7 separate regions of the Homo sapiens genome follow, and all the other regions are reported to be linked to region 5. The links are microRNA targets in miRTarBase. Many come from high-throughput screens and were not tested one by one. Region 5 holds a microRNA gene; each other region holds the end of a gene's coding sequence.

The links. Region 5 holds the annotated microRNA hsa-miR-2053 (GUGUUAAUUAAACCUCUAUUUAC, at 3,007-3,029, shown strand). A microRNA usually pairs through its seed, bases 2 to 8, with sites in the 3' UTR of a target mRNA and lowers its output. Matches are read on the target gene's strand: a 7mer-m8 pairs with bases 2 to 8, a 7mer-A1 pairs with bases 2 to 7 and ends in A, and an 8mer does both.
Region 1: miRTarBase lists RAB6A as a target of hsa-miR-2053. Seed matches in the 3' UTR shown: 7mer-A1 at 1,798-1,804.
Region 2: miRTarBase lists IFT56 as a target of hsa-miR-2053. Seed matches in the 3' UTR shown: 7mer-A1 at 2,870-2,876.
Region 3: the mRNA of CACNG6 is a reported target of hsa-miR-2053. The part of its 3' UTR that is shown has no 7-base or 8-base seed match.
Region 4: the mRNA of DENND5B is a reported target of hsa-miR-2053. Seed matches in the 3' UTR shown: 7mer-m8 at 1,132-1,138 and 7mer-m8 at 1,103-1,109.
Region 6: the mRNA of ZNF146 is a reported target of hsa-miR-2053. Seed matches in the 3' UTR shown: 7mer-A1 at 911-917 and 7mer-m8 at 1,655-1,661.
Region 7: miRTarBase lists HSPA5 as a target of hsa-miR-2053. Seed matches in the 3' UTR shown: 7mer-A1 at 864-870.

The regions. Positions count from the first base shown.
Region 1 is chr11:73,674,681-73,678,760 of GRCh38, forward strand. RAB6A (RAB6A, member RAS oncogene family) reads right to left here. Exons shown (of 8, transcript NM_198896.2): 8 at 958-3,282. The coding sequence ends at 3,218. Among named protein-coding and RNA genes, the nearest start is that of PLEKHB1, 30 kb to the left of the region's middle.
Region 2 is chr7:139,189,085-139,193,084 of GRCh38, reverse strand. It overlaps IFT56 (intraflagellar transport 56), which reads right to left. Exons shown (of 18, transcript NM_024926.4): 18 at 1,099-3,764. The coding sequence ends at 3,653. Among named protein-coding and RNA genes, the nearest start is that of UBN2, 40 kb to the left of the region's middle.
Region 3 is chr19:54,011,957-54,016,036 of GRCh38, reverse strand. CACNG6 (calcium voltage-gated channel auxiliary subunit gamma 6) reads right to left here. Exons shown (of 4, transcript NM_145814.2): 4 at 3,371-4,080. The coding sequence ends at 3,848. Among named protein-coding and RNA genes, the nearest start is that of CACNG6, 22 kb to the right of the region's middle.
Region 4 is chr12:31,383,998-31,388,077 of GRCh38, forward strand. DENND5B (DENN domain containing 5B) reads right to left here. Exons shown (of 21, transcript NM_144973.4): 21 at 1-3,789. The coding sequence ends at 3,606. Among named protein-coding and RNA genes, the nearest start is that of LINC02387, 17 kb to the left of the region's middle.
Region 5 is chr8:112,640,547-112,644,626 of GRCh38, forward strand. MIR2053 (microRNA 2053) reads left to right here and starts at 2,947; the gene lies at 2,947-3,037. All of the region lies in intron 20 of CSMD3 (CUB and Sushi multiple domains 3), which reads right to left.
Region 6 is chr19:36,236,518-36,240,597 of GRCh38, forward strand. It overlaps ZNF146 (zinc finger protein 146), which reads left to right. Exons shown (of 4, transcript NM_007145.3): 4 at 1-2,251. The coding sequence ends at 802. It also overlaps a transcript of ZNF565 not described here. Among named protein-coding and RNA genes, the nearest start is that of ZNF146, 23 kb to the left of the region's middle. RefSeq lists a silencer at 1-57.
Region 7 is chr9:125,233,113-125,237,186 of GRCh38, reverse strand. HSPA5 (heat shock protein family A (Hsp70) member 5) reads left to right here. Exons shown (of 8, transcript NM_005347.5): 8 at 33-2,334. The coding sequence ends at 595. It overlaps RABEPK (Rab9 effector protein with kelch motifs), which reads right to left. Exons shown (of 8, transcript NM_005833.4): 8 at 3,026-3,499. The coding sequence ends at 3,207. Among named protein-coding and RNA genes, the nearest start is that of HSPA5, 6.2 kb to the left of the region's middle.

The DNA of each region.
Region 1 (4,080 bases), not on the chromosome of region 5:
TCACACTTAATTTATGATTCCAAATTGTTTCATATCTTATCTCCTTAATATTTATCATGTCATCCTTAAATTATTCGTTCTTTCCCAAAGTATTTCTGCTTTAGATATTTACTTTTACTTTTGAGGCAGTTTTTAGGTATTCAACTATATTGCTGTGTGAGTTCAAATTCCCCTCAGGGTATAGGCTACTAGTCTGGAAGGCACAAGGGACAAGACTGTCAAGGAGAGGAGGGGACAAACTTTGGGGCAAAGAGTTCTAGGAACTATAAGCCCACATGTAATCACTCCCATTCAGTATCAGTATCATCCCCCAAAGCCACAACTTATTTCAGGGCCTTGCCTTTATTTCCATCGGCTTATTAGTGCTTTTGTACTGCCTTAATATTACTCTTGCAGACACCTGCACTAGTATTCTGGCCTGTGGCCTTCATTTTACAGTAAGGGGTTCAGCTATGGTTGTCCCAAGGCAGGGGTTGCCCTTTTCTCTGTAAAGGGCCAGATAGTAAACAGTTTTTTGGGTTTTAGGGCCATAAGGTCTGTGGCAGCTATTAAGCTCTGCCATTATAGTGGGAAAGTATGGCTGAGTTCCAATAAAACTTAATTTTTAAAACTGGTTCCAGGCTGCATTTGGTGGGAGGGCCACAGTTTGCTGGCTCCTGTCCCAAGGCAAAGGTATAGTTAGGAGTGAGGACGCAAAAGCAGAACTTAAGATGCTTTTCTTAATATGTCCTATTACTGCCTCCACCAGGGGATGTATCTTTCAAGTTGCAGCCCCTCTCCCCCACCCCCCAACAATACCCCCATCAAAAAAAGAGTCTTTGACTCCCTAGGAGTTCCTCACATTTGTTGTTGTTATTTTTCTGGATTCTGTCCATGTCTGCTTTAAAGGTCTTCCCAGAGAGGGAGAAGTAAATGCTAATTCACCATCTTGGCAGGAATGGGAAACCAGGTCAATAATTGTTTTCTTTCGTGTTTTATTTATATATTTTTGGCAGCAAAATTGTGTTTATTAAAAAAAAAACCTGGACTATGAACACACTTCAATGCTTTGAAGAACTCCAAGCCAAATAAAAAGACCAATCAATATTAAAAGCAGTATAACTGGTTACTTTCTTAAAAATACATAAAAAGAATCAAATGCAACAGTGTAGGAAGACAATCACACCCATGTCAGAAGTCACAACTTCTTCCAAATAAAGAATATGACCCATCTGCCATATTGAATCAATATTTATTTCAGGACATGCCATGTCAAAATAAAACAAAGAGTCAACCCTTGCCTTTAACAATTATATTGTATTATAAAAGCACTTTACAACTCCATCCCATCTTTAAGTATAAGTTACTGGTATGTGGGCTAATGATTATCTGTAAGCATTTCTCTATTCAGATCCATAATCCAAGTGCTCTCTGAATATTACAAGGTGACAATAAGTGGGAAGTGGAGGAGGAAGAGGAAAGAGAGGGGACTAAGGTTCTCCCAGTTTAAGGTTTTGTTCCAATGAGGGGATGAGGAAGTATGAAGATATTTTTGTTGTCTTTTCATCTTTATACTGTGTTAAGTAATGCTTACAACATAAATTCAGCAGGCTTTTCCTGAGCTGTAACTCAGAAGTTTTCGTCCTGCAAACAATGTATTTACAAATGTGTTTATTAGCTTACACAGCAATCTCACAATAACTAGTAAAGATTAAAAGGGCACACTCCTAGTATATTTGTTTGCAGTGTTTTAAGGGAAATACATATTGCCATGGTGAAGCTCTAAATAGATTCAACGAAACATCTGAAGATTGAAAGTTGTTAAAAAAAAAAAAGGCAAAGAAATAAATATCACCAAAGAAAAAAGATTAATTGTAGCTTAAATATAAAACTAAATCACCAGTTAATTAAACTATACAGATCTAATACAAACCAAAACCAGCCTGAAAGACCCAACCTTAAAAAATGCTAAAAAATAAGGCATAAATCTGCATAATATTGAGTTTTATTTCCATTCTCTCCTTTCCCTCTACTATGTATGCTTTACCTGATCTGCCTCTAGGGGCTTACAAGAAAACGGTTTCCGGTTTCCGTCTTCAATTTGACCTCAAATGTCCTGAGCAAAGTTTTTGTTATTCTGCTGAGGGTTCTTTTGTTGGTAAGCTTTAGACATCATTATTTCTACTAATTCAGTAGTTTTGATCGTAGCGCCAAATTTAAATTCTTCCACTGGTTCTTCTGGAAGGAATTAAAACTTTTACAGTGCCTTGCCTGCACAGTATTATGTTTTTAAAAAAGAAAACCCAAGCAAAATCTATTGCTTAAAGAGGTTTCTTATTTTTTAAACAAACAGAATAACTCTTGACAATTTTAAAACCTTGGGAGAAACAGTTCATTAGAACTTCATTTTCTTACCGTGAAGAATTAAATACTAAAAACCTGTTCTGAAGCACTTGGTTAATTTTCTCTCCCAGAGTCTAATAAAGCACATGTGAAAGAGCCATTTGTTTTAGTCAGAAATACATCTTATGTTCTTCTACTTCTAAGTACTCAGTATGTTCTTTAGGACTCATTTTGAAGATGCACCAGGAGCCTTTTCTCATTCAAGCACTGCCTACCATGATGGCTGAATTTTGACCTCAAAGAAGACCGTAATTTATATCAGTGCTCAAGAATAATTTTGGACATCTTGGTCCGTAGCCTACAGCAAGTGGTATCTGTAAAATTAAAGGATAATTCCAATGGGCTTGGTAGAACTGCTGCTTTGCCATCTCTTGTTTGTTTTGAGGAAGTCGGGGGAGGCTAGGTAAGAATAGGGTAATAGGGAATGGGGGTAAGTGAGAGGTGAGAAAAGCAAGGAGAGATAAAGTAGGCTGTGAACATACCGCTCGTTAACCAAGCCATACTCATACTGTTGAGATTTCCATCATTTTGAAGTACATTATCATAACATTAAAAAAGAAAAAAATGTTAAGAAAATGTATCTAATTTTTAAAGTTATCACTGGAATATGCTGAAATATTTTGGCTTTTTGTAAAATATAAATAATGAAGACACTGACTTTTGTTGTGCTTGTGAAGCTAATAGATCATCTCCACGAGACAGGCAGCAATGATGAATTGCAATACGTTATTACTGAAGGGAAAAGGTTCAAGCCAATATTCACACTGCAGTCAATGAAAGAGTAAGGGGGCCAAAGCAGTGAGCTTCTGAAGAAGGTTGAAGATGACATGGGAGATTAGCAGGAACAGCCTCCTTCACTGACTGGTTGCTCCTGAGGCTTTTCCAGTTTTATGTCAATCACTGAAACAAAAGTTAAGAAGCCATAAATGGGAAAGTACAATTTCAATTCTTCCAAACACTAGCATTTCTGGGATGGCCCTTATATTCCTATCTGTCTTCAGAGCCTACACACTCACTATTTTCTACATAGCCGCCTCACCATATAAGGTGCTCAAATGGAATAAACTTGTTTATATCTACTATATGCAACAAGGGTCAGAATGAGGTACAAGCTCTATTTATGGGTATCTATCCTAAGGAACTTATTCTACAGTGGCAAGAAGTGATATGAAGATGATGTTCCTCATAGAATCATCTATAATATAAATCTGAAAATAGCCTACAAGATAGTTCCAACAGCAGAGGAAACATTTAGTAAATAATGGGACTTCAGGCCGGGTGCCGTGGCTCATGCCTGTAATCCCAACACTTTGGGAGGTTGAGGCAGGCCGAACACCTGAGGTCAGGAGTTCAAGACCAGCCTGGCCAACATGGCGAAACCCCATCTCTACTAAAAATATAAAAATTAGCTGGGCATGGTGGCTCATGCCTGTATTCCCAGCTACTTGGGAGGCTGAGGCAGGAGAATCACTTGAATTCAGGAGGCAGAGGTTGTGGTGAGCTGAGATTGCGCTGCTGCACTCCAGCCTGGGCGACAGAATGAGACTCCATCTCAAAAAAAAACGGCGGTGGGCGCGGGGACATACTTCAACTCAATAGAACATTTTTTGTTGTTGTTGTTGTTTTGTTTTTGAAACATATTATGTTTTATGTTGTTGTTGTGTTTTTTTTTTTGGGGGGGGAATGGAGTTTCGATCC
Region 2 (4,000 bases), not on the chromosome of region 5:
TCAGGTGATCCTCCCTTCTCAGCCTCCCAAGTAACTGGGATGACAGGAATGTGCCACTACACCTGGCTAATTAAAATTTTTTTTTTTTTTTGTAGAGACAGGGTTTTGGTATGTTGCTCAGGCTGGTCTCGAACTCCTGGCATCAAGTGATCCTCCCACCTCAGCCTCCCAAAGTGTTGGGATTACAGGCATAAGCCACTATGCCCAGCCTAGAAGTATTTTATAGGATGAAGAAAAGAGTCGTAAGACAACTATTCATCTAAGACACAGATGTTCTCAATACAGGATCTAGTAAATCACTACTTCATTTTTGCCATTAGAAAGTAGATGTAACTATTGTGATATCATGCCTGTTTGCTAGCACCTTTCTGAAAGTGCACTAAGCCACAGAGGAGGAAAGCAGTCCCTTGGCTTCCGTCTACTTGGATGCATGTGATGTGTGTGGCACACATGGCAGAGCTGTGGGCATCTTGCTAGCTGTTGAGCTTTGGGATCCATTCTGATTGCTTCTCCCAAATGAGGCAGGGGGCATCTCATTTACACGGATACAAACATTCCATTGCCTTCTTTTATTGCTCAATACTTTATTCCCACTGATGATATCAATCACGTTGTTGTGTTTAGTTGTGTATACTTCTGTTAGAGTTCCTTGAGAGTCAGGCCTGTGCATTATTTATCTTTGCAGCCCAAGTACCTGGCATATGCTTAGCACACAATAAAATAATAATTCAATGGGAACTGAATATATGAGGTTAGACTTCACAAGTCACTTGCCCTACCAGTTACTGTATGTTTAATTATTCAGTCAACAAGTATGTGAGAGCTTTCTATGTGTGAGGTACTACACTATGCACTGGTCATATAACTTCTGAATGGGCTGTAATTCAGCAAAGAGCCAAGCCTAGTATGATTCAGCAGGAACTACCAGCCTCTTAGTGGAAAGGGCTTCTTGGGGAATATGTACTTTTCTCTCTTCTAAAGAGTAACTTATGGGGCCCAAAACTTTCTCTCCTTTCATTCTAGGGCTAGGAAAGAAAGGGTAGAAGGCACATGACATACTTAGGTCCCACCCTCATCACACTCAACAGAATATCATACTAAGAATCAAATAATAAACTTTAATTTGAATATAATACAGTAGAATATAATAATTATTTTGAGGTACAAAAATAATTATAAAATACTTTTCCCATTTGCAAGTAATGTATGCTATAGACTATAAATAGTACACTGATGCCAGAAACTGTACATATTTCACTACATGCCTAAGTCTGGGTCTTCCTCTCTCCTCCATCATCACATGTAAGAAAACCAGCTATGCAATACTACTTTGCAATCTTGAAACTCTGTTAAGACATTTCAGAAGTAGCTATCTTTAATAAAAGAATTAGATGGTACCTTTCTTTAAAATAGTATGTATGTTTTTTGGCTCAATCCTATAGATGAAAAAGTTTACAAAAATTAGATTTCTGCCATTTTTGGAATATCTGCTTTTTTTTCCCAAAAGACAGGAAAATGTCAGAGAGAATCTAGAGTGCTGAATTCAACACAAGCTCATTTGAAAGTAAGTCTCCATCAATGGAAAAGCTTTTTGACTATAGGCAATTTGAAAATAATAGCAATTCACTGGAAGACAAATTTCACTGCCAAAACCTGCAGACGAGTTCTCCCTGTCTTTTCTATTACTGTGTTTCCTAATATTTTAAGTGAGGTAAGAATTACAAGAGTGATTCTAAAAATTATAGCAGGTTCTACCCAGATGGGACCCATCTAGTTCCTAAGATGCTGAGAGCCATTTATTATTTAAAAAGTAGGAACAACATGAGGAAACAGAAGCTTTGGCATATGAAAAAAGATGTAGCTTTGCTTCCTAGAATTCAGTTATTTAGGCCAGTTTATTTTGATTTGTGCTCTGAACTGATTATATATGGGTCTAAAGATAAAAGACAGAAAAACTGGCCATCCTCATGAGTAGAGGTGAAATAACCCCTTGAGACAGTCCTGAAGGTGAAGGAGATCTTCAGTCATCGATCTCTTCTTGGCTGCTTCCACTCCTGCCATTTTCTCATCTCCTTTCTATACAACTCCTTCATCCACAAGTGGAGTGCTGGGATAAATGGAACAACTAATACAGTGCCTACGGGGATTTTCCTGACTTCAGTGCTTGAGGAATTCTTTCTTTCAGTTCTCTTCCCATCTATTCTCTTCTAGGTAGGGATGGCTCTGCACTTTCTAGACCTGTAACACTAGGTACCTTAAACTAATAGAAAAAAACTATATGGTGTAAAAACAAAGGTAGTATAAAACATAGAAAGATGTGGGTCTCTTTTCTGGAAATAGGTTGTGAGCTTAAGAATGCTCAGTTGTATGTTATAAGAGCTCAGAAGCCTGGGGCTGGAATATGACTTACGACAGAGAGCCTAGCCATTAGGAGATTCCCTCAAAGGACTTTATACGATTCATGTTTTATTATCGTTACATTAATAAGTGCCCACAATACATATAAATCACTGTAGCCCTACTTTCAAAACTGATGTTTGGGCCAGGCGCGGTGGCTCATGCCTGTAATCCCAGCACTTTGGGAGGCTGAGACGGGCGGATCACGAGGTCAGGAGATGGAGAGCATTGTGGCTAACACGGTGAAACCCCGTCTCTACTAAAAATACAAAAAATTAGCCGGGCGCGGTGGCGGGTGCCTGTAGTCCCAGCTACTCAGAAGGCTGAGGCAGGAGACTGGCGTGAACCCAGGAGGTGGAGCTTGCAGTGAGCCGAGATCGCACCACTGTACTCCAGCCTGGGCGACAGAGCGAGACTCCGTCTCAAAAACAACAACAACAACAACAACAACAACAACAACAAAAACTGATGTTTGTTAAGCAAGATACATTAACAAAAACCTAACCTGCTTTGTTACCTAAAATAATTATGGTACCAAACTATAATGGACTAGTGAGATTCATAAACATTGTTTCTTGAATACCTTTAGAGGTACTACAATTTTTTTCATAGTACTCACCTTTTAAAACATTGCAATACTCATCTTACTGCGCTGTAACATGTTATTATCATCAACAATTTAATTACTGAAAGAGTAATCCCATAAATCTATCCTATTAATGACTGGACAGTTTGATAAAGTAGCTTACTGCCTTTCTTAGAAACACATAGCTAGTTATTCTCCCAAGATTCAGAGATGACGTTATAAAACCCTTTATGGAATTCCCCAATAAAATGGGATAACGTACAGAGACGCCTTAAAGTTAAATGATACAATGATGCTGATTCTTGAACATCAAAGATGTTTGTTATTGCAGCCAGGAGACAATGCCATAAAATGCTAACAAAAAAAAGTTATACTGTTTTCCTTAAAGTCAGTAAATTGCATAAAAGTACTCTGAGCATTTTTGGAAGAAAGGCACCAGATAAGTCCAAAATCTTATTGCTACTAGGATCATACAGGGTCACAGACTATGGCACTCTGTTCAGCCAGGAGACTAAGTCTCAGCAAGTCAGTCTCTGACCTTGAGGCTTAAAGAGCAAGGAAGGAAAATGTCAATAAAACAGAGCCCTGTATCACAGATTAAACTGGAGTGAAAATGATTTCCAGTTTTATGTCAAAGTAGAAGCTGGTTCCTAGGACGCTGGCGCTATTTTAGATGGACACTCTGTTTTCTTTGGCCCATTTCTTCATGATCCGGATCATGTATTCTACTTGGGTGTTACCTGTGCTTCTCAGTAAATGGAGCACTTCTCGAAGGGTCTCTCTGAGGAAAAGATTTGAAAAGACAAAGTGTTTCAATGAAGAATGAAAATTAAAAAATAAAATAAACTCTGAACTGTCCTTCATACTGTATGTCTTGTAGGGCATTTTTGGTAATAGACTCTTTCACTGTGTATTCACAAAGCAATTACAAACTGCCTAGCCTTATGTTCTTATTGTGGCATAGTAAAATGGAAATTATGTGAAATCTTTCTTGCCAATCCAAGTGTTCCTTGTTTA
Region 3 (4,080 bases), not on the chromosome of region 5:
GTCCCAGGGATTTGGGGGACTGAAGCACGAGAATCGCTTGAACCTGGAAAGTCGAGGCTGCAGTGAGCCATGATTGTGCCATTGCACTCCAGCCTGGGGGACAGAGTGAGACTCCATCTTGAAAAGAAAGAAAGAAAGAGAGAAAGAAAGAAAGAGAGAGAGAAAGAGAGAAAGAGAAAGAGAAAGAAACAAAGAAAGAAAGAAAGAAGAAAAAAGAAAGAAAGAAAGAAAAAGGAAGAAAGGAAGGGAGGGAGGGAGGAAGAGAGAGAGGCCAGACGCAGTGGCTCGCGCCTGTAATTCCAGCAGTTTGGGAGACTGAGGCGGGTGGATCATGAGGTCAGGAGATCGAGACCATCCTGGCTAACAAGGTGAAACCCCGTCTGTACTAAAAAAAAATACAAAAAAATTAGCCAGGCTTGGTGGCGGGCGCCTGTAGTCCCAGCTACTCGGGAGGCTGAGGCAGGAGAATGGCGTGAACCTGGGAGGTGGAGCTTGCAGTGAGCCGAGATTGCACCACCGAGCTCCAGCCTGGGTGACAGAGCGAGACTTCGGCTCAAAAAAAAAAAAAGAAAAAGAAAGAAGGAAAGAAAGAAAGAGAGAGAGAGAGAGAAGAAAGAAAGAAAGAGGAAGAAAGAAAAGAAGGAAGGAAGGAAGGAAGGAAGGAAGGAAGGAAGGAAGGAAGGAAGGAAGGAAGGAAGGAAGGGCCATTCCCCCAAGACCAACTATCTCCGCCACCCCCATGGCAGATGTCTCTTGAGGCTTCCCTGACCTGGCTGGGCACAAAGTCAAACAACAAAAAAAAAATTGTGGACTCTCTTGTCTCCTAGCACTTAACTTGGTTTATAATTGCACGCTCATTACTTCAGTGATGTGATTAGTATCTGTTTCCATCAGCAGGCTGTCAGCTCGTCGTCGGGGGTCCCTGTTTACTCTGTAAGTGCCACTTGAGAAAAACTAACAGCAAAGGCAGATCGAGTTGCGACCACGTGCCAGGCGGTCTCCTGGGAGCTTTGCAGGGCTCATGATGGCGTTTACTCCCGACGGTGACTCCTGGGAGTAGGTACAGGATTGAGCTCACGCACCGTCTTTAGGGATGAAGGAACGAAGACAGAGAGAGGTGAAGCTGTTGCCCCAGCCATAGGTCGGGGAGCTGGGCTTTCACACCAGCCTGGCTCCCAGGTGCCCAGGCACTGCGGGGCACTTCTGCTTGTTGAATGGAAGAATGCAGAATTAGAAACAAAAATCGCATGGTCAGCTGGGCGCGGTGGCTCACGCCTGTAACCCCAGCACTTTGGGAGGCGGAGGTGGGACGATCACTTGAGGTCAGGCGTTCAAGACCAGCCAGGCCAACGTGGTGACACCCCATCTGTGCTAAAAATACAAAAATTAGCTGGGTCTGGTGGCGCACACCTGTAATCCCAGGTACTGGGGTGGCTGAGGCACAAGAATTGCTTGAACCCGGGAGGCGGAGGTTGCCGTGAGCCGAGATCGCACCACTGCCCTCCAGCCTGGGCGACAGAGTGAGACTGCAAAATAAAAATAAAAATAAAATCACATGATCATCTCAATAGATGCAGAAAAAGCATTTTGATATGGGAGGGGGGCAGAGAACTGCTGGGTAGAGAAGGGCAGGGTCTCTGGCAAGGGCTCTACCCTAGGGCCTGTGCCCATGGACCTAAATTAGAACAGGCATTTCCGAAGGTGCTGGGATTACAGATGTGAGCCACCACACCCAGCTAATTTTTGTATGTTTTGTTGTTGTTGATTTGTTTTGTTTGTTTGTTTGTTTTTAGTAGAGACAGGGTTTCACCATGTTGGCCAGGCAGATCTCGAACTCCTGACCTCAGGTGATCCACCCGCCTCGACCTCCCAAGGTGCTGGAGTTACAGGCATGAGCCGTCGCGTGGGGCCAAGACTCACCCTTTTCTTAACACCTGGCAACCACTAGTCTGTCTTCCGGGTCTGCAATTTAGTGACTTCAAGAATAAGAAACCTTGTTTCAACCCCTTGACCTGATGCCAGTGTGTCTCTGCTCAGCAAGCTCCCATGGCTCCTCAGTACCCTCAGGGTAAAGGCCAAGCTGTTCTGTTGAGCATCTGAGTCTCTCCACCTTGTTCATAAGACAGCCCACCCCAACCCTCTCACGTTTCCTGTGTCTCACTCTGAACACCAGCGTTCACATTTCCTCACTCACAGGTTCATCATGTTTTTCCTCTTGTTTCTGTCCAGGCTCTCCCACCCAGCTGGAACGCCCGTGACGTTCTCCACTTTCTCTGATTCTTACTCACCTTGAAGACTCAAGTTCGTCATCTTCTTCGGAAGGCTTTCCTGAACCAATCCCCCTTCCCCCCACCTTTTTGATTTTTTTTTTTTTTTTTTTTTTTTTTGAGACGGAGTCTTGCTCTGTCACCCAGGCTGGAGTGCAGTGGCGAGATCCCGGCTCACTGCAACCTCCAACTCCCAGGTTCAAGCAATTCTCCTGACTCAGCCTCCCGAGTAGCTGGGATTACAGGTGCCTGCCACCACACCCAGCTAATTTTTGTATTTTTAGTAGAGACGGGGGTTCACCGTGTTGGCCAGGCTGGTCTTGAACTCCTGACCTCAGGTGATCCACCCGCCTTGGCATCCCAAAGTGCTGGGATTACAGGCGTGAGCCGCCACACCCGACCAGAAAACACAATTTAGAATATATACACTGTTAATGGTTGAATGTTCTCCCCTACAAAATGTATATATATATATATATGTTGGACCCTAACCCCCAGTACCTAAGAATGTGACCTCATTTGGAGATACGGTCTTTACAGAGATAATCAAGTTAAAATAAGGTCATTGGGGGTAAATCCTAATCACGTATGACAGGAGTCATGTGTAAAGGGGAAATCTGGGTGGGGTACGGTGGCTCACGCCTGTAATCCCAGCACTTTGGGAGGCTGAGACAGGTGGATCACTTGAGATCAGGAGTTCGAGACCAGCCTGGTTAACATGGTAAAACCCCGTCTCTTCTAAAAAAAAAAAAAAAATACAAAAATTAGCTGGGCATGGTGGCTCGTGCCTGTAAACGCAGCTACTTGCGAGGCTGAGGCAGGAGAATCACTTGAGCCCAGGAGGCGGAGGTTGCGGTGAGCCAAGATTGCAGCACTACACTCCAGCCTGGGAGACAGAGCAAGACTCCGTCTCAAAATAAAAATAAAAATAAAAAATATATTGTGTTTTCCACACTCTCAACCATTGTGTATGGGTTCGTTTTCATGTGACTTCTGGGCTTAAAAGTGTTTCTGGAGGGTATGTTTCTGGAGGGAATATGGGGTCACTTTTCTTTACCCCAGAATGCACGATCACATCACAAATAGACTCCAAAGCAAAGTTGTTAAATTTCCAAACCTTTAATCCCAAATCAGATCACAGCGAGGCCAGACCCTTCGCTATCTCCCCCAACCGCACCCGGAGCTGCAGATGAGTTGTAAAAAGTCTCTCCCGGCAAGTGAATCGATCCAGACCTGGGAAATGAAGGGGCCCCCAACTCCCACCCAAGACCCCCTGACCTCATCCCCCAACCCCACACCCCAGCTACCCCATCAGGTCCCCGCCAGTCTTCTCTGGGGACCCTCGTTTGCAAAGAGCCTCTTCCCATCCCACCCCCAAGCAACCCACATACAGCCACAGAGAAAAACGTATTTACAGAGGGAGAAAGGATAAGGGGACAGGAGGCAGGCGTGTAAAAAAACATGGGCCCCCGAGCAGGGAGAACACAGTTTCTCTAGGAGATGGGGCAAAAAGATCTTGGGGGTACAATGGAGAAGGTCAAAGGGCTCGGTGGTTGCTTAGAGAAGTCTCACGCGTGGCTCTAGGTGGCCCGGTGCCCCCGCTTGGGACAGAGGGACCCCCAGGGCCAGGAAGGCAGTGTGAGCAGCAGAAAGCAGCCGGCCCCCAACAGCAGGATCAGGCCGGCCCCCACGCCGCAGCCCAGGGACCAGGAGTACTCGTAGGTGAGGCGTGGGGCCGGGGGAGGCTCCGGGCTGACTCTCTGCAGCAGGGCCCTCACGGAATGCCGGAACACCTCCAGGCTCACCAAGAGCA
Region 4 (4,080 bases), not on the chromosome of region 5:
TGAGATGTAATCCTAAAGCAATGTATTAATTTAAAAAATTACCACAGCAGAAAAGATGCCTCTATGTGGGTATGGTCCTTCCAAAAGTCAGCTTAAAAGTCAAGCATTTATTCTAAGCATTCTGCTACTACTGTTGTGCTCAAACTTTTGGTATAACTTAGAGACACTTATGAGCCACATAAAAACTAAGTCCTTTGTTTTGTTTTTTTGAGATGGGGTTTCCCTATGTTACCCAGGCTGGACTCAAACTCCTGGGTTGAAGTGATCCTCCTGCCTTGGCTTCCCAAGCAGCTGGGACTACAGGTGTGTACTGCCATGCCCAACATGTCTTATTTCTTTATAACTGCACTTCTTATGTGACCCCAAACTCAGCTTAAGCATCCTTTTCATTGATCAAACTTGGATCCTAAGGACTATTTCCAAATATTTAAATTTATTCTTAAAGGCCAAGATTGACTGCCATTGGGAATATTCAAAAGAATGGGGGTACTGGCCATTCAAGCAGCTCACACAAGGAGGGCCCCACATGTTTATAGCACAGGCTGTATCAACGGAATAAGTACATGGGCTCACAAGGTGACTGAAGGACCCATCATCCAAGAGGATGTGTCAGTTCTGATGTGTTTTTTTTAAATCATCATTTCACCATTATAGTAATATTACACAAAGGCATGAAGATGAAACTTCAGGTGTAACTTTTTTGGGGGTATTACTTTTTAAAGTAATGGTTTTATTCATAGGCCGCAAATCCAACTTTGGCTGCAGTTTTTTTCTTTTTTTTTTTTTGAGACGGAGTCTCGCTCTTGTCACCCAGGTTGGAGTGCAGTGGCACAATCTCGGCTCACTGCAACCTCCACCTCCTGTGTTTAAACGATTCTCCTGCTTCAGCCTCCTGAGTAGCTGGAATTACAGGCCCTGCCACCACCCCCCCGCTAATTTTTGTCTATTTTTTTTTTTTAGTAGAGACGGGGTTTCACCATGTTGGCCAGTCTGGTCTTGAACTCCCGACTGACCTCAGATGAACCACCCGCCTCAGACTCCCAAAGTGTCAGGATTACAGGCGTTAGCCACCGTACCTGGCCTGCTCCCAGTTTTTACAAGATGTTAATTCCCAATAATCTGAGAGCAATGTGTTAATATGAATATTAATTCTTCTAAATGAATATTCATCCTTATTTCCTACTTGTATAGGTGGATGAATAAAGATCCAATAGTATAATAGAAAGACTATTAGTAAGAATGCCGGAAGGTCAGTCTCATGCAGCCTGGTGAAATAAAACAAACAAACAAACATGAATTCTAGAGCTTGTGTTGTCAGTAACCAGCTGTGGGGTAAGTGTAAGATTTAATCTCTCTATTCCTTAAGTGTTCCCATCCACAAAGTAAGAAGGCTGGATGAGGTGTGTCAATCCTAGCACATTAACCTAAGTCATCCCCCAGGTTGCCTAGACCTGTCAGGAGCATGGCCTTATGAAGATACAAACATGAAATCCTGGGTTGGACCCCTCTATAGTTTCTGATCACCAAACACAGTAGGAGCCCAGTGTAAAACAGGTTCTGGATATCTCCCACGATAAACTTCCCATGTCCCTGGAAGAGCTGTACCATTGTAGACACACTTTAGCTTCAGGCAAACAAATTTCTGGTGTACCCAGAACCATTTTCTTAAACCATTTCCATGGGTTTTTATTTTTATCTATTTATTTTTTGAGATGGAGTCTTGCTCTGTTGCCCAGGCTGGAGGGCAGTGGCGCGATCTCAGCTTACTGCAAGCTCCGCCTCGCGGGTTCACGCCATTCTCCTGCCTCAGCCTCCTGTACAGGCACCCGCCACCACGCCCGGCTAATTTTTTGTATTTTTAGTAGAGACGGGGTTTCACGGTGTTAGCCAGGAGGGTCTCAATCTCCTGACCTTGTGATCCGCCTGCCTCGGCCTCCCAAAGTGCTGGGATCATAGGCGTGAGCCACCGCACCCGGCTCCATGGGTTTTTAAATACAGCTGTCAACTCTCCTTTTCCTCAAGTATGAAGTCACATGTTAAAAGAGGCTGTCCTTGGCTGTGTTTGATAAAGGGAGTTAGGCACTTGTTTCATCTGTTTCTTCCTCCAGGAAATAAGGTTAACAACACAGGTGGTGAAAGCCCAGCAACCTCCGATTGCACAAGGATACTGATGCCATGGCTTTGCTTTTCAGCCACAACTGGGAATAAAACTGGGAGCTCTGCTGAGGCAATTTTGCTGCTAAAAATGTACAAATGCCTAATTAGAGTTACAGGACCTACCAGAAGATGAGGACTTACAGTAACTAGCCAATACTACATTTACTTAACTTCTTTATAAACTATCAAACTGGAAAGTTACTCACAACTTTTGGTCTTTCAAAATTGTTGCCACCTCTTGCTTTGCTTCCATTTTGTCAGCCTGTGCTGCCAGTGGCTTTTAGCTTCTCTGGGTCAGTTGTTTTACATTATTACTCCCCTTCCTACAAAGGAACGTAAAGCTTGCCCTGAAACACCCAGAAAGGGTTCATTCTCTCTCTCCTTCTGTTATTTGCATTATCATGGTCAACAAATGCTTTCACAAAAACATTCCAAGCCACACACAGCCCTCCTCCTCCTTAGACATTCCTTCCATTTCCCGAGGGGGGATGGGCCCTGGAGAGGTGGGTGATTAGACCCTAACAAAGACAGGGCTCATGGTTATCCTTAAGAGGTAGACCACTGCACAGTTTAGATGGCCAAATTAAAAGTACAGAATCAAATTGCTGTTTGCAGTTCTTATCACTATGAATCTAACACTGAAATTCACATCTTCCCAAAGTACCTCAAATAACAAGAATAAAAATGCCAAGAATGAAGTTAGTCTAGGCTAATCTTTCCGAAGTGTAAAGAAGTTATAATCCCACAATTGAACACATTTCTCAGAGCTTTGTATGTTCTCTTTCCAGTTCAGCCAAGCTCCTGGGGTCTAGTGTTTAAAATACTCCAATTATATCATCTTGTGCGGACTGAAATTTTTTTCCAAAAGACTGGAAAAGTGACTAGCGATTCAAATATATAAAACAGTTTGTAACTTAAAAGATAGAAGTGAAGACTACCAGTACAGTAGGTAAAGCTGTGTGCATCCACAATACAAAGGATCAGACTCCAAGATGGATGGCTACTACATAACAATGCATTCTGGGTTTCTTTGTGATACCTGGAGAAAAAAAAAAGCCCGACTGGGTTGCACTATATTTACATGTTTACTGGCTTCTTCCTGGCTAGCACCACTCTTCCCCCCAACCCCCAACATTTTTAAGCTACTTATTTTAAGTCACAGGAATATTCAATCTAAGAAAAGCATCTTATTAGAGTAATATAATTTCTTAAAGAAGATAGCATATTTACACACATCTAACACATGAAAATACTCTATTTTATACTAAATTCCAGGTTCAAATGAACTACAATACAACATTTTGCCTTGTCTGTAGAGTGAGGATTGTTCCAAATGGGGCATATGTTTGGCTGCCCCTGCAGTGACTCACTACTGTCAGACAAGTCCAAATCGGTCCCCTAGTTGGGGAAGGAGCAAGGTTTGGACTGAGAGTTTCTAGCCAGTTGGGTTACACATCCACTCCTTTGATGAGTGATCCTTCTAGGACTATGGTGAAGTCCTGAATGGTCTGCAGAATTCGGATAAGGGAGTTGACAGTCATGCGGTCTCGCAGGAGAGCGCTCTCTTCATACATTCGAGTGATGGCAGGACACTCAGCTAACAATGGAATCCACTGTGGGAGCAGGCGATCCCTACAGACCCAAACAGAAACAATTCCTGAGCATTGCTGGCCTCGCTGCAGAACAAGGCACACAGTGGAGTCTGTATGAATGGGAAGGTGTGGGACTTGATGGTACAAAATGTATCCAAGCTAAGAGGTCAGGAGAGAGGAAATCAAAGCCAAGAAGTTGAATATTTTCTGGTAAAAAGACAGTGATGAGACAGTGTAAAGAAAGCTAAAGGGAAAACCCATTATTTTAAACCCAATTTAATGTACTTTAAGAGTTTAAAGTACATTAGAAAGTCTATGCACATTAAAGACA
Region 5 (4,080 bases):
ATATAAGGTACTATTTTCAAATTATTTTTCAAAATGCAAGTTTTGGTGTTTTTTTTTTCTCCTCTCTATAATTGGCAGCAATACAAGAGCCCTTTTAGAGGGGGTCTAAAAATTAAGTCAGTTTTTCAAATCTTCTATAGTATAAAATCAGTATTGATACTAGACAGATGAAAGGAAAATGGGATTTTGACATAGTAAAGAGAAGATGCTTTGCTGTCCAGATTAGCTCCTGCAAAATAATGTAAGGGTAGAAAGTTCAGATAAGTCAGTCTTATTTCTGCTATAAAGCTAAGAAAAAAATAGTTAGACAATAGGAGAGTAGATTGAATAAAAGAGAAATAAATCATCATGTATACTATATTATTTTTATTTTTTAAGAAAAATGTGCTTGTTCTGAAATACATAGAATGAATTATTTTAGAATTTCATTAATTAATTATCGGTGCCAACAAAGCCACTGTTAAGTATTATTTACCTTTCTGAGCCCTACTTTCTCCATATTTAAAATGGGGTTCTAATAGAGTTGTTTTGCAATTTAAATAAGGTAACAGGTAAATGACTTCGCACAGTGACTGGCACAGAAAGCGTTATTGCTATTGATCAATTTCCCAAAATGAGAGCTAATGTTTTTCCTGTTATTTAGCCCTGGCCAGCCGCTTTGTAAAAAGAAGCTGCTGTTCATCAAGTCATGGATTAAATGGTAATATTTGCTTTCTTTCACTACTGCAAAACAACTTAAGACCTTCAAAGTTGTGCCAAAGGTCAATTAATCCAAATAAGAAAATGATCCTGAGAAACTACTATATTCTAGTCATTATAGAATATAAATATTTAGAAGACTGTAAGTAACTCATGGCCTATTTGAGGAAAAAGGTACATGAACCAAAATTTTAATCATTCTGCCAAACTGGTTAATACAACTCAATATAGGAGCATAGAAATAGAGGTAACTAATTTGTCAAAGGGGTCCGTAGAGGGGTATAAAAATGACCTTCAAATGTAATGACAATCCAGGTCTGGTGGCTCACACCTGTAATCCCAGCACTTTGGGAGGCCTAGACGGGTGGATTGCTTGAATCCAGAAGTTTGAGATCAGCTTGGGAAACATGGTGGAATCCCAACTCTACAAAAAAATACAAAACTTAGCTGAGTGTGGTGGCATACACCTGTAGTCCCACCTACTCAGGAGGCTGAGGTGGGAGGGTCACCTGAGCCCAGGAAGACTGAGGATGCAGTGAGCCAGGATCAGCCTGGGTGACAGGGTGAGAACCCATCTCAGGAAAAACATAAAAAACAAACAAACAAACAAAAAACCCCAAAGCAATGACCTCCTAAATCAAAAAGGCAATGACTTTCAAAAGTGAGAAGTTTGTGATGGTGAGGACCTAGTATAGACATTTTGGAAAGAAGGGGATTAGACAGGAAAAGACAACCAATTCTAATAAGGCAGGGAGAAAAAGTCAGTGGTTTCAATATCGTAATTACTTCTAGTAAGAATGCTAATTCAAGATGCCCAATAAAGGTAATTTATGTTTATATATATATATATCTGTATGACTTGTACTTAAAGTCAAAATAGCGTTAATATCTAGGTTTTAGTTATAGTCATGCCACCAGCTATTACCTAAAGGGTGCCATTTGACTTTTTTTTTCTAATATGTAAAGTAATAGGTGTGGACTATGCTTTATTTAAGGACAGTCCAACTTCTAAAAGTCTAAGGGTTTTTCCTGATGTACATTTTTTTCTCTAGGTTTCCCGTAACTATTTATAATTAGCATCCTGACTTCTACAACGTGTTTAAGGAAAATCTCTCATGGTGTCCTTGTAAATAAGGAGCAATGTAGGCTGAATGACACTGTCGTTAACTGAGTTTGAAACTACTGAACAATTGTATGTGTTCAAACACCTTGACTTAATGTTTAATGGTGAAGAGATTACAGATGGTACATATACATTTTATTATTTCTTAAATATTTAGATATTTAGATTTATCCTTGTTAAGATTCTTATAAACCCTTAAAATACTAATGATCATAGTTATATAAGAACATCTGACTACACAATGTAAATGTAAATGAAATGTAAATCACTTCAAAATGATCTCATAGGAACTCTGAATCAAAATCAATATGATAAAGCATAACAGGGATACATATAAAAGCTTGCACTGAAGATAGAAAAAAGCAATTGCATAATTATAGAATTTTAAGAATTGAATTTATCTGTATTTTAAGTCCCAGTAATCTAAAAAGATGATTTAGATTACTACAAACTTCTTATCAATTAGTATTATAACATGGCAGCAAAAAAGTTAATTAACACAAATACTGTCTTCTTCAATGAAAATAATTTTAGTGTTACACTGTGCCATGATGTGTTCAGTTTTAGAAAACCACATTTTAAAGAGATAAGCTGGAATGCATCCAGAGGAAGTTGATTAGAGTGGTGATGAACATGAAAATATTATCTTATGATGAATTAAAGAAACTAGGAGTGTTTAGTCTGGGAAGAAAAGACTTGGAATCATGATCTAGGGATAGAGGACATGAAAAACATGGTAGTCTCAGAATGGTGAGTTGATGTGTTTGAGGAGCTTTTGGTTGGAGCAAGGATTAGGCTGCCTTTTTTGGTATAGCTCCAGAGAGCAGAACAGGGATAACGGCTGCAGAATAATTTTTAAACAATCAAATATGGAAAAAATGAGGAATTTGTCCCAAGGAGTACAGTCCTTATCAACAGAAATACCCATAACAGGCCAGTTCATCATGTTTCTGAAACACCATACGGAGAAGCTAGTTTTCTGAGTAAGAGGTTAGACTATATTACCTTGAATATTTCTCCCAACTTTGAAATTTTCCTTCATGTAAATTTGCTACACTTTGGAAGAGTTGTACTTCAGACAAACTTAGTTGGCTCTTAAAAGAAAGGCATCTACGTCCGCATCTCTTGCCATGTAAATACAGATTTAATTAACATTTGCAACCTGTGAAGATGCAAAACTTTAAGTGTTAATTAAACCTCTATTTACATAGCAAGCAGTATGTAGCCCTCCACTCCCTTCTATAATATCAGGGAGCTTATTTTAAACTCTATTAATCTATTGCACACTGGGATAATGGGACACTTTGGTTAACTTCCAGCAAAGAGTCTTCTATTAATAAAGATTGACAAAAATCACAGTTTACAAAGTCTTCTACCTCATTCCTGCTATTCAGTACCAGAATACTCATTTTAACAACGCTTTTTCTCAGTAATATTTAATTCATTGTAGAAATTTAACCAAACTAGTCCTGACATAATTCTCACCTCCTGATAAAATATATATGTAATTTAATCAAAGGCAAACTTTATTTCTGAAAACGCAAATTTAAATGTATTAAACACAAGCTTTTAGTTTTAATGGTAATAACATCTTCTCATTGCTAAAAGTATTTTGTTTTGACTTTTTCTTTTTTTAGATTTTCTATATTAAAATCAATAAATATATTTTAATAGTAAAATTCAATAATATAATACATCAACAGAGCTAAAAAAAAGTACTTTTCAAAATCAGATTTTAAAATGAATAAACTAGCTCTTTTAGAAGATCAACCCATGGAGATTTTCAAGTAAATAACTTTAATATATTTTTTGTTTTCATATATTAGAATGGTCATTTTACCATTCATAAGTTGTTACCTTGATAAATTACACTGTATCTTGATAAATTTGAAATACATACTTATACACTTCTAATTATAAGCAATATTTGCAAAAATGGATGGTAAATTAAACATGAGTAATTGTTTAGCAGTCCCTCTTATTAAGCAGTAAGAAAACGAATTATTAATCATGCAAAATTGTTTGTTATAGATTCCTATAGGGATACATGTCATTCTTTACAGATTCCTTTCAAAACAGTGAAGTAGGTTGTAAAAGTTTTATGAGTGGTTGAATCTCATGAATGAACCATGTTTAATACTACAGAGCCTTTTACTTATTTGTTTATTTGTAAAAGGACATTTATTAACATCTACCTTATGCAGAGTGCAATTTTACACTCTATGTGAGACATATCTATAGCTCTGTACTAAAGAATC
Region 6 (4,080 bases), not on the chromosome of region 5:
CCACAAATCAAACCTCACTGAGCATGAGCATTTTCACACGAGAGAGAAACCTTTTGAATGTAACGAGTGTGGAAAAGCCTTTAGCCAAAAGCAGTATGTCATTAAACATCAGAACACCCATACTGGCGAGAAGCTTTTCGAATGTAATGAATGTGGAAAATCATTTAGCCAGAAGGAAAACCTCCTTACGCACCAGAAAATTCACACTGGAGAAAAACCTTTTGAGTGTAAAGATTGCGGGAAAGCTTTCATTCAGAAGTCAAACCTCATCAGACACCAGAGAACTCACACAGGAGAGAAGCCCTTTGTATGTAAGGAGTGTGGAAAAACCTTCAGTGGCAAATCCAACCTTACTGAGCATGAGAAAATCCATATTGGAGAGAAGCCTTTTAAATGTAGTGAATGTGGAACAGCCTTTGGCCAGAAGAAGTACCTCATAAAACATCAGAACATTCACACTGGAGAGAAACCCTATGAATGTAACGAATGTGGAAAAGCCTTCTCTCAGCGAACATCACTTATTGTACATGTGAGGATTCATTCAGGTGATAAACCTTACGAATGCAATGTTTGTGGAAAAGCCTTCTCTCAGAGCTCATCTCTCACTGTGCATGTGAGAAGCCATACAGGGGAGAAGCCCTATGGTTGTAATGAATGTGGGAAAGCTTTCTCTCAGTTCTCAACCCTTGCTCTGCATTTGAGAATACACACAGGTAAGAAGCCTTATCAGTGCAGTGAATGTGGGAAAGCTTTCAGCCAGAAGTCACACCACATTAGACACCAGAAAATTCATACTCACTAAAAACCCCATGAAAGCCTTGAAAGTGGGAAAGCTTTCATTAGAAATTTGCACCTCATCATGCCCCAGAAATAATCCTTCTGAAGCAAAGCACCACGAATGAGGTTAACTTTAACAAGTACTAAAAACTTAAGGGACACCAGAAAATTTGTACTGAAGAGAAAGACATGCATATGATTAAAACCCTGTGTCCAACAGAGAAACCTGCAGCAGAGATAATGGTGAAAGTTTAGGCACATTTTCACTAAAAGTGGGAACAGAAAATGGAGGCCTGTTTTTTATTGCTACCACCATAGATCTGGAGATCTTCGCCAGTAACAAGAAAAATTAAGTTGTAAATATTGGAAAGGAACAGACAAAAATAGATGACATGGTCATCTACAACTAATATTAAGACTCCTGTGGTATTGATTGAGCAGAGCAGAAGAGATTTCAAAAAAAGACCTATGCATTTATTAGAATTTGGAATATGATACAAGTGGCATCAGGAAATGAGGAAATAATGGAACTATTTTTTTTAAGTGGAGGTAGTTTGTTCTCCAAGGGGGAAAAATAGACCATGAACTATACACAAAAGTGAATCCAGAGATTAAAAACAGAAATATGGAAAAGCTATGTACTAAAATGCATATGACCTTGGGAATAGGGAAACATTCCTTGGAACAATTTGAGAAATACTTAGCGGTTCTACTTATGAGTATGAATGCTCAGGAAATACGCACTAGGATATTTACTGTGGCTTGATTTGTAGTAGCCAAAAATTAGAAACAACTGAGAAAGCCCATCACGAACAATATGGGAAATTCTTATGTAATACTATATATCTGTAAAATGCAACAAATGAAATCCACATGTATTAACAGAAAGATCCCAGAATTGTTGAGGGGGGATCAAGTTGCAGAATGATACAGATAGTACAATGACTTTTTTGTAAATTTGAATTAAAAGTTTCCTCATAAAACTCAGTACTATCTATTGGTAATGGATGCATATATGTATGTACATGTTTTTGAAACGGATTGGAAGGATACAGACCAAACTCTTGATAGTGGTCACCTGTGAAGAGTGGAGAAGGGAAAATAATGAGTGTGGGAGGTGGGATGGGTATTGGTTAAAGGGGACTTCAGCTTTTTATATAAACATCCACTTCTCTTTCAAAAGACTTCAAGTAAATATAAGAAGATACTGATTGATTCTGGATTGTGGTATAGGGATATCTTGTCTTATTTTTTGTACTTTTCTGTATTTTTAAAATTTCTCAAAATAGGAATGGGAGTGAGGATGGGAATGCTGTATCTGTGGAAGTCATGTTATACTGGATTCATTTCCAATTAAATACTAAACATTTTATAGAAAATATTTCTAAAATTTTATCACGGATGAATGGATGGACTTGCTCTCTATGTAATATGAAATTAATCTATTTTATTAAAATTTAAAAGGACAGCACAATCCAAATCTGTTTTAATTATTTTAACATGGCATACACACTATATCGGGGTCCCCAGCTCCCCCCAGCTGCATGGCAGGAGGTGAGTGGCGGGTGAGCGAGCATTGCCACCTGAGCTCCACCTCCTGCCAGATCAGCGGTGGCATTAGTTCTCATAGGAGCGCGAACCCTATTGGGAACTGTGCATGTGAGGAATCCAGGTTGTGCGCTTCTTATGAGAATGTAACGCCTGATGATCTGAGGTGGAACAGTTTCATCCTGAAAACATCCCATCCCCATTCTTCTACCCCCACAAACCGTCCGTGGAAAAATTGTCTTCCATGAAACAGGTCCCTGGTACCAAAAAGGTTGGGGACCGCTGCACTATATGATCTCTGTCTTCGTATTTCTAACATTTTGCAGAATGAGCTTAGAAAACTTTAACTTTTTCTTTGTTCATACATGCACAGGCTTCATATAATTGGTCTTTTTCAGTTAGGCTGATTTTGGAATGTCAGTTTTCCTCTCCTGCATATTTCCATGGGAAACGTGTGCATTAAATATTAAATTTTTGATAATATCTTTTTTTTTTTTTTTCCCATCTTGCTCTGTTGCCCAGGCCAGAATACCATGGCAGGATCTTGGCTCACTGCAATCTCCTCTGCTTACTGGGCTCAAGCAGTCCTCCGACCTCAGCCTCCCAAGTAGCTGGGACTACAGGCACGCACCACTATGCTGTGCCAATTAAAAAAAAAAAATTGTAGCGATGGGGTCTCCGTATATTGCCCAGATTAGTCCCAAACTCCTGGGGTGAAGTGATTCTCCATGGCCTGTTCAAGTGCTGCCATTACATTACAGGTATGAGTCACCATGCCCAGCTAATTTTATTTTTAAAAAGAGAAAACAACTTCCCATAACTTCCACAGTTCAGTGCATTAGATACCAACACCTGCGTGTCTGTCTTAACCTGCGAGCTCTGTCACTCCTCCCACTGCTGTTACAGAGAGAGAATGGGACGGGTATGAGAAAAATGGCTCAGACCCTAGACAGAGTTCTATTTTGTAAACCAGCCCTTCATGAAAATTTTTTTATTCTTTGATCACATTATAATATAAAGAATATTATTAAAGGTTTTCTTGAATAATGGTGAATGTCAATAATATACAGCATTTGAGCTTGATTTTGAAACCTTAAAAAACTCATTAAATGGCACTGCATCACTGTATCTTTTAGCCTTTTTGGAGGAATTAGATACTTAAATGTCTAAATGAATCTGCCCTTTATATTATGATGTACCCCATCTTTTTCTCTGTTTTCCCTGTTTGCACATATATTTCACATTTAAAGGTGTTGTCTTTATGATACAGTTGGCCCTCTGTATCCATGGGCTCTGCATCCATTTATCAACGAACCCTGGATGGAAAGTGTTTAAAATATACAACAATTTTAAAAATACAAATGTTAATATACAACTATTTGGATAGCATTTACATTGTATTAGGTATTATGACTAATCTAGAGATGATTCTAGCTAGGCATGTGCCACACATCTGTAGTCCCAGCCACTTGGGAGGGTGAGCTGGGAGGATTGCTTGAGCCCAGGAGTTTGAGGCTGCAGTCAGCCGTGATTGCACCACTATATTGCAGCCTGGGTGACAGAGACCCTGTCGAAAACAAACAAAACCAGGAGGAAAAACACAGGGATGGAGACAGATCAGTGGGAAGAGAATTGAGAGTCCACAAATGCTATGGGTTGAATGTCCCACCCAAAACTCAATGTTGAAATTTAATTGCCATGGTAATGGCATGAAAGGTTGAGACCCTTAAAATGGCCATGAAGGGGCTGGTCGTG
Region 7 (4,074 bases), not on the chromosome of region 5:
AACTAACAAGTTTTTCTGTATGTAACTTCTAGGTGAAAGACCCCTGACAAAAGACAATCATCTTCTGGGTACATTTGATCTGACTGGAATTCCTCCTGCTCCTCGTGGGGTCCCACAGATTGAAGTCACCTTTGAGATAGATGTGAATGGTATTCTTCGAGTGACAGCTGAAGACAAGGGTACAGGGAACAAAAATAAGATCACAATCACCAATGACCAGAATCGCCTGACACCTGAAGAAATCGAAAGGATGGTTAATGATGCTGAGAAGTTTGCTGAGGAAGACAAAAAGCTCAAGGAGCGCATTGATACTAGAAATGAGTTGGAAAGCTATGCCTATTCTCTAAAGAATCAGATTGGAGATAAAGAAAAGCTGGGAGGTAAACTTTCCTCTGAAGATAAGGAGACCATGGAAAAAGCTGTAGAAGAAAAGATTGAATGGCTGGAAAGCCACCAAGATGCTGACATTGAAGACTTCAAAGCTAAGAAGAAGGAACTGGAAGAAATTGTTCAACCAATTATCAGCAAACTCTATGGAAGTGCAGGCCCTCCCCCAACTGGTGAAGAGGATACAGCAGAAAAAGATGAGTTGTAGACACTGATCTGCTAGTGCTGTAATATTGTAAATACTGGACTCAGGAACTTTTGTTAGGAAAAAATTGAAAGAACTTAAGTCTCGAATGTAATTGGAATCTTCACCTCAGAGTGGAGTTGAAACTGCTATAGCCTAAGCGGCTGTTTACTGCTTTTCATTAGCAGTTGCTCACATGTCTTTGGGTGGGGGGGAGAAGAAGAATTGGCCATCTTAAAAAGCGGGTAAAAAACCTGGGTTAGGGTGTGTGTTCACCTTCAAAATGTTCTATTTAACAACTGGGTCATGTGCATCTGGTGTAGGAAGTTTTTTCTACCATAAGTGACACCAATAAATGTTTGTTATTTACACTGGTCTAATGTTTGTGAGAAGCTTCTAATTAGATCAATTACTTATTTTAGGAAATTTAAGACTAGATACTCGTGTGTGGGGTGAGGGGAGGGAGTATTTGGTATGTTGGGATAAGGAAACACTTCTATTTAATGCTTCCAGGGATTTTTTTTTTTTTTTTTAACCCTCCTGGGCCCAAGTGATCCTTCCACCTCAGTCTCCCAGCTAATTGAGACCACAGGCTTGTTACCACCATGCTCGGCTTTTGCATTAATCTAAGAAAAGGGGAGAGAAGTTAATCCACATCTTTACTCAGGCAAGGGGCATTTCACAGTGCCCAAGAGTGGGGTTTTCTTGAACATACTTGGTTTCCTATTTCCCCTTATCTTTCTAAAACTGCCTTTCTGGTGGCTTTTTTTAAAATTATTACTAATGATGCTTTTATAGCTGCTTGGATTCTCTGAGAAATGATGGGGAGTGAGTGATCACTGGTATTAACTTTATACACTTGGATTTCATTTGTAACTTTAGGATGTAAAGGTATATTGTGAACCCTAGCTGTGTCAGAATCTCCATCCCTGAAATTTCTCATTAGTGGTACTGGGGTGGGATCTTGGATGGTGACATTGAAACTACACTAAATCCCCTCACTATGAATGGGTTGTTAAAGGCAATGGTTTGTGTCAAAACTGGTTTAGGATTACTTAGATTGTGTTCCTGAAGAAAAGAGTCCAGGTAAATGGTATGATCAATAAAGGACAGGCTGGTGCTAACATAAAATCCAATATTGTAATCCTAGCACTTTGGGAGGCCAAGGCGGGTGGATCACAAGGTCAAGAGATAGAGACCATCTTTGCCAACATGGTGAAACTCCATCTCTACTGAAAATACAAAAATTAGCTGGGCGTGGTAGTGCAAGCTGAAGGCTGAGGCAGGAGAATCACTCGAACCCGGGAGGCAGAGGTTGCAGTGAGCCGAGATCACACCACTGTACTCCAGCCCGGCACTCCAGCCTGGCGACAAGAGTGAGACTCCACCTCAAAAAAAAAAAAAAGAATCCAATACTGCCCAAGGATAGGTATTTTATAGATGGGCAACTGGCTGAAAGGTTAATTCTCTAGGGCTAGTAGAACTGGATCCCAACACCAAACTCTTAATTAGACCTAGGCCTCAGCTGCACTGCCCGAAAAGCATTTGGGCAGACCCTGAGCAGAATACTGGTCTCAGGCCAAGCCCAATACAGCCATTAAAGATGACCTACAGTGCTGTGTACCCTGGGGCAATAGGGTTAAATGGTAGTTAGCAACTAGGGCTAGTCTTCCCTTACCTCAAAGGCTCTCACTACCGTGGACCACCTAGTCTGTAACTCTTTCTGAGGAGCTGTTACTGAATATTAAAAAGATAGACTTCAACTATGTGTCTGATGTCTATAGTTTGTTGTTTACCAATTATAATTCTGCAACTTCTTTTTTAACCCTAACCATATTGCAACTTTGTGATTAGCATTTAATACACAAATCACACCTACCTAGGTTTGTATTGTTGGCAAAACCTTTTATATATATATATATGTATACATATATATGTGTTTATGTATACATATATAAATACATGTATATATAAATATGTATACATATATATGTATACATATAAATATACTATATATGTATACATATATATGTGTGTATATATGTATATATATATATATTTTTTTTTTTTTTGAGACAGAGTTTCGTTCTTGTCACCCAGGCTGGAGTGCAATGGTGTGATCTCAGCTCACCGCAACCTCCGCCTCCCGGGTTCAAGCGATTCTCCTGTCTCAGCCTCCTGAGTATCTGGGATTACAGGCATGGGCCAGCACACCCGGCTAATTTTGTGTTTTTAGTAGAGACGGAGTTTCTTCATGGTAGTAAGGCTGGTTTTGAACTCCCGACCTCAGGTGATCCACCTCCTCAGCCTCCCAAAGTGTTGGGATTACAGGCGTGAGCCACCAAGCCTGGCCCAAAGCCTTTTATGTTAATGCAGTGGAGGTTTTTGCATTGGGCAAAACTTATCTATCTACCACAGTTTGCAAACCAGTCACTGAAAGTCATTCCCAAGAGCTCTGAGAGGCAATATAGCAAGGTTTAGTGCACATAAGAATTATTTGCATTAGTTTCTTCACCTACCAAAGTAGGAGAAAAACAGATATATAATGCAGAAGATATTTTGGAGGTATAAAACAGCTAATGTTTTACTTAACTATTCTGAAAGTAACTGACAGGTAATAAAAATGTGGGTTTTATTAGTCCACTACAGTCACAATACAATCGTCATAGATTTCCCCTTCTGTATTCATCCCACCAAACACCAAACAGAGCAGTGTAGCAGTCTGGCTTTCCTCATGTGAGTCACCACTGTGGCTCATTACTTTGTCAGCTGAATCCTCTTTCTCAGCTTCATGGTTCAGAGTGAGAGAGTTGGAATCTTCTTTCTCAGAAGCACACGTCACTGGCCATGGAATGATACACATGGAATGGTCCAATCGTCCAGGGGGTAGAAGAGTATCAAATTTAAGCAAGGTCCAATGCTGCTCTTCTATGTTGGGGAGGGAAAAGGCTTCATGTTAAGAAATTTCCAGATAGGCCGGGCACGGTGGCTCACGCCTGTAATCCCAGCACTTTGGGAGGCCGAAGCGGGTGGATCACGAGGTCAGGAGATGGAGACCATCCTGGCTAACACGGTGAAACCCCGTCTCTACCAAAAATACAAAAAAAAAATTAGCTGGGCATGGTGGCGGGCACCTGTAGTCCCAGCTACTCGGGAGGCTGAGGCAGGAGAATGGCGTGAACCCAGGAGGTGGAACTTGCAGTGAGCCAAGATCACGTCACCGCACTACAGCCTGGGCGACAGAGTGAGACTCCATCTCAGACAAAAAAAAAAAAAAAAAAAAAAACAATTTCCAGATAGTGAAAGCCAAAATCTGAATAAAATTTAAAAAGTAATGAAATTTCTAGAAATGCTCAGTGATTTACTGTAGCAGCCGAGTCCTAACAAACAGGAGTAAAAGGAAAAAAACCTTATGGCAGCATTGCTGCTTTCCTGATGTCATCCCCTACAGAGTTTTCATTCTTTTGGATTTAGATATAGAGGAACCAAATTGGAAGCACTGC